Linked DNA regions of Homo sapiens: region 1 is linked to region 2. Evidence: fine-mapped expression QTL. A gene starts in region 2. The other region holds a variant in brackets. All regions are shown on one strand. Distances are between the middles of the regions.

Region 1 (2,500 bases), 42 kb after region 2:
ATGCCACCACCCCTGGGTCTCCGCACCCCAGCCCTTACTGGGCCCTTCCAAAGTGCCCCTTAGTCACTGCCCTCCCTGACCCAAGTCTCGCTTCCTCCATGAAGCCTCCCAGACTGACAGCTCCCAGGCACTAAGGGAGCTCAGGCTTGCTGAGAATGGTAGCTCCAGGATTCTGCTGAGGGAGAGGTAGGCCTGCAGCTCATGGGTGGGTTCAGGGAGGAACCTGACAAAAGCACATGCGGCCTGCCTGTCATGTTTTTTCCAGGGGATTTGTGGGCTGAGGAAACCTGAGTTCCTGCCCTGGCCCCCTGGGTGCCATCCCTGCTGGAGGGGAGATGAAGGAAGCACAGCTACCCTACTTGAGCTCCCAAGTCAGCGAGCCTCCAGGAGGCTTCCCATGAGTCCTCATTCTTTGACAACTGCCTCTGGGCTCAAGGCAATGTTAGGGTTTTGTTTGTTTGTTTTGAGGCGGAGTTTCACTCGTCGCACAGGCTGGAGTGCAGTGGCACGATCTGGACTCACTGCAACCACCACCTCCCGGGTTCAAGCGATTCTCTTGACTCAGCCTCCTGAGTAGCTGGGATTACAGGCGCCCGCCACCACGCCCGGCTAATTTTTATATATTTAGTAGAGATGGGGTTTCACCACGTTGGCCAGGCTGGTCTTGAACTCCTGACCTCAGGTAATCTGCCTGCCTCAGCCTCCCAAAGTGCTGGGATTACAGGCATGAGCCACCATGCCTGGCCCTGATTTTATATTCAGATGGTTTCTGTGTTCTCCACCATGCTTTCTCCTTTCCCAAGTGTTTTTTTGTTCGTTTGTTTTGTTTTGTTTTTTGAGATGGGGTCTCACTCTGTAGCCCAGGCTGGAGTGCAGTGGTGTGATCTCAGCTCACTGCAACTGCCGCCTCCCAGGTTCAAGCGATTCTCCTGCTTCAGCCTCCCAAGTAGCTGGGATTACAGGTGCGCACCACCATGCCTGGCTGTTTTTGTATTTTTAGTAGAGATGGGGTTTCACCATGTTGGCCAGGTTGGTCTGGAACTCTGGACCTCAGGTGATCTGCCTGCCTCGGCCTCCCAAAGTGCTGGGATTACAGGTGTGAGCCACTGCTCCAGGCCTGTTCCCAAGTACCCTTGGCTGTCTGTTCTTGTCAGATGTTAAGGACACCTGAGGATGTCAGGGCAGGACGTTTCGGGTGCAACCTCAAGAAGTGGGAGTGAGGAAGAGGAGGCCGGGGTGGGTCAGAGGGCAGGGTCACTGTGGGGCGCGTCTGCCCTGTACTCAGTGTGGCACCATCGGGCCCCTCCTGCTGTTGCCTGGGAAGCCTTACCCAGCAGTGAGGGGTGGCTGTGGAGCAGCAGGGCCGGGAGCGGGGGAGCATTTTTGCTGCCACCTTTTAGTGGAGTTGGGGGAATGACAAAGGT[G/GC]CCCTGGGCCTGAGTCTTTCAGTGGCGCTGGCAGTCGGCCGGGAGGGAGACGCATACTGGGGAGCTGGAGCCTGCACACTGGGCCTGGCCACATCACTGTTTTCCTCACCCTCTGGTTTTATTTTGAAACATTTGGAGCATAAAAGTTGCAGGAGCACGCAGTGCATACTGTATCGCCCTGGCCTGGGTTCCCCGGCTCTCCTTCCCTCTCTCTCTCCTCTTTTTTCTCTCTCCCTCCCTCTGTCTCTCCTCCACACACTTCTCTTTTGCCAAACCATCCAAATGCAGGCAGCAGACTCCAAAACCATTCTGCCTGCACCTCTGAGCACACCCTTCCCAGTCATAGCCATGTTAATGCGAGTGTGCCTGAGAGGATCGCCGCTGGTTCCGTGATATCACCCAGCATCATCCACACCACATCCCAGTGAGCAGTGAGGACAAAAATGGCCAGGTTAGGACCCCATGTTGCCTTTTTTTGCCACCCATATCCCGGAGCCCCTCTCCTGTTCTTTATTTTTTATTTTTACTTTTATTTTTATTTTTTTTTCGAGACAGGGACAGGGTCCTGCTCTGTTGCCCAGGCTGTAGTGCAGCAGACCTTCCAGGCTCAAGCAATCATCCTCCCACCTCAGCCTCCTGAGCAGCTGAGACTACAGGCAGGCTACTTTTTTGAGTTTTTGAGGAGATGGGGTCTCGCTGTGTTGCCCAGGCTGGTCTCAAACTCTTGGGCTCAAGCGATCTTCCCATCTCGGCCTCCCAAAGTGCTGGGATTACAGGTACAAGCCACCGTGCCCAGCCTAGTGTTAGCAATTTGATATTAAAATTGAAATAATAGGCCAGGTGCAGTGGCTCATGCCTGTAATCCCTGCCTTCGGGAGGCTGAGGCGGGCGGACCAGCTGAGGTCAGGATTTCAAGACCAGCCTGGCCAACATGGCGAAACCCCGTCTTTACTAAAAAAAAATACAAAAATTAGCCAGGTGTGGTGGTGGGTGCCTCTAGTCCCAGCTACTCGGGAGACTGAGGCAGGAGAATGGCTTCAACCCGGGAGGTGGAGGTTGCAGTGAGCTGAGATCAC
Region 2 (3,002 bases):
ACATAGACACTGCCTGCGCGTGGGCCTCCTCCCTTCTCCCTCCCGTCAGAGCTGCCAGCTCCACTCACCAGGTATCCTGGCCGCATTGAGGATGGCTGAGGGCAAGAGAAGGAAACGGTTAGGCCGGTGAGGGGCCCCAGGACACAGTGGTGAGGGGCCCTCAACGCCCAGTGAGGAAGGCCCCCAACACCCAGTAAGAAGGGATCCCAGTGCCCAGTGAGGTGGAGGTCCCAGCACCCAGTGAGGAGGGTCCCTCAGCGCCCAGTGAGGAGGGGTCCCAGCACCCCCTGAGGAGGGTCCCTCAGCGCCCAGTGAGGAGGGGTCCCAGTACCCAGTGAGGAGGGTCCCTCAGCGCCCAGCGAGAAGCCCCCAGCACCCAGTGAGAAGGGGTCCAGTGCCCAGTGGGAAGGGGTCCCAGCACCCAGTGAGGAGGGGTCCCCAGCGCCCAGTGAGGAGGGCTCCCCAGCGCCTAGTGAGGAGGGTTCCCCAGCGCCCAGTGAGGAGGGGTCCCCAGCGCCCAGTGAGGAGGGCTCCCCAGCGCCCAGTGAGGAGGGGTCCCCAGCGCCCAGTGACGAGGGGGTCCCAGCGCTCAGTGAGGAGGGGGTCCCAGCGCCCAGTGAGGAGGGGTCCCAGCGCCCAGTGAGCAGGCGTCCCAGCGCCCAGTGAGGAGGGGGTCCCCTTGAGTACCTGGTGGTGAGGAACCTCTAGCCCTCCAGTGCCCAGGGAGACTCTCAAGTCTCTCAACCCCAGGGCCCCTACCGGCGGGGCATTTCCTGGGGCCTGGCCAGGCCCTGGCTGCACAGCTGTGACCCTGCCCTCCCGCAGCTTCCCGTCCAGCCTGCCTTCCGGGGACCAGGACCGGCTCCTCGAGGGAGGCACAGACCTGAGCCCCTCGGCTCTGGACGCTGCTGCCGCTGGTGTGCCCTCCCCTGACCTCCTGCGGCAGGAACAACACAAAACGGTGCTTCCCCAGAGGCAAGCAGCGGAGGACGAGGAGATGGGAGAACACGGAGGCGAGAGGGAGCAGGCGATGGCGACGCCGACGGTAACTGGAGACCGAGGCGCGCTGCGTACTTGCTGCGTTTTCTGTTTCATCCTCACAGCCGTAGAAGAAACCGAGGCACAGAGCAGTTAAGGAGCAAGAGATAAACAGAGCAGAAGCGGAAAGGAGATGAGAGAGGCAAGGCCAGGAGGGAGAGAGGGAGGGAGGGAAGGAGGGAAGGAGGGTGGAGGTGAGAGGGAGGAGGGAGGAGCAGCCTCCGGACGTACCTGTCGACGCCAGCAGCAGCAGGGAGGTGAAGGTGCCGAGACAGCCCCCACCCAGGGCTGGGGGCGCTCCAGAAACCACCATGGCTGGTGGGGCGGGGGAGCAGGCAGCAGGCTCGAGAGACCCAGGGCGATGCGGGTCAGGGTGTGTAGGTTCCCTGCAGGTCGCCCCAGGTTTTATCCTGGGAGGCGGAATGCCGTCAGACCAGTCCCCAGGTGGCTCCCGCGGCCACCCCGGCTGTGGGTCCTGGGCAGAGGGCGGGGCTGCGGGGAGGAAGCCAGCCGCTACAGGGCTCTGGGGGGGCTCTAGCTGAGACCCCAGGATGTGGCCTCTGGAAGGGCAGGGGAGGGGGCTTGGGCCCAGAGGTCCCTGACATTAATTGTCCAGGGGCAGAGAAAGGTGCCAGGGCACTGAAAGGAAGGGGTTCCGGGCTGGGGAGGGCCTGGGTTTGGAGAGGCTGAAGTCTGGGGTACTGGGTGTTGGGGGTGGTCCTAGGGCCTTAGGGATCAAGGGGGTGCCCAAAGCTCAGTAACGGCTCCCACCTGCAGGGCCCCAGGCCCCTGTGACTCAGCCCAGAGACCTGGCGCAACCCGGGCTTGGGAATCCCGTTAACCCACTTCCCGAAAGCTGTGAATCAGGTGAGTGGCGACCTTGGTGGCCTCCTGGTGGCCGCCCTCCTGTCGTTCCTGGAGGCGGGGCTCTGCCCTGCGGTTCAGACACCTGACAACTCACCTCACCTGGACTCCTGGGAAGGGGAGGAGCCCATGGGCACCAGGGCTCGGCCAAGCAGGGGGGTTGAGAGAAGAGGGGCCCCGGGAAGGGCTGGGACTCCCAGGATTCAAAGAGCTGCTGGGCTGGGCTGTGGGGGGCCGGGTCCTGGGCTGGGAGTGGATTCTCGGTGCTTCCCCCCAGCGGCTGCCACAGTGGCAACCCGGGGCTGAATCCTGTGAGACCTTCCCTGACTCAGTGCCCTGCAGCGCCCCACACTTGGGACACTCCCACCCAAGCAGGGCAGGCTTCCTCCTCTACAAAGAGGCAGGAGCCTGCGCCCCTTCACTCATTCGATCAACAAGCCTCCAGCAGGGCCCTTGCTACCGCCGGGGGTGAATTAAAAACAACCATAGTGTCTGGGTGGGGTGGCTTATTCCTGTAATCCCAGCACTTTGGGAGGCCAAGACGGACAGATCATGAGGTCAGGAGTTCAATACCAGTCTGGCCAACATAGTAAAACCCCGTCTCTACTAAAAATACAAAAAAAAAAAAATTAGCCAGGCATGGTGGCAGGCGCCCTTAGTCCCATCTACTTGGGAGGCTGAGGCAGGAGAATCGCTTGAACCTGGGAGGCGGAGGTTGCAGTGAGCTGAGATCACGCCACTGCACTCCAGCCTGGGCGACAGAGCGAGACTCTGTTTCAAAAAAAAAAAAAAAAAACCATAGTAGTGAATATGTATGTAATAAATATATTTATACAAATATAAATATAGTATTTATATAATAGAGCAAACATTTAGGAGTGCCATGCATTGCCTCCTAATCCTCAAATGTCTTTATTATTCCCACTCTGCAGATAAGGAAACTGAGGCAGCTTAGGGCGGTTAAGTGACTTGCCCGAGATTGCTGGGTGAGTGGTGGAGCCGGACCTGCACCCCAACACTGGGGGTGGCTGCTGGGACTGCCCTCATGGAGGCTTCGGGAGCCTGGAGGAGGTGCCTCACCCTGCCTGGGGTGAGCCCTA

The links. PIP is the estimated chance that this variant, and not a neighbour inherited with it, causes the effect.
Region 1: its variant is the best candidate, but not a certain one, in a credible set for the expression of PRSS22 in whole blood (TOPMed, PIP 0.63).

The regions. Positions count from the first base shown.
Region 1 is chr16:2,899,418-2,901,917 of GRCh38, forward strand. No RefSeq gene overlaps it. Among named protein-coding and RNA genes, the nearest start is that of FLYWCH1, 11 kb to the right of the region's middle. The variant G/GC (reference allele first, on the strand shown) is at 1,425.
Region 2 is chr16:2,856,754-2,859,755 of GRCh38, forward strand. PRSS22 (serine protease 22) reads right to left here and starts at 1,417. Exons shown (of 6, transcript NM_022119.4): 1 at 1,270-1,417; 2 at 69-95. The coding sequence starts at 1,351. RefSeq lists enhancers at 802-1,402, 1,403-2,003, 2,004-2,603.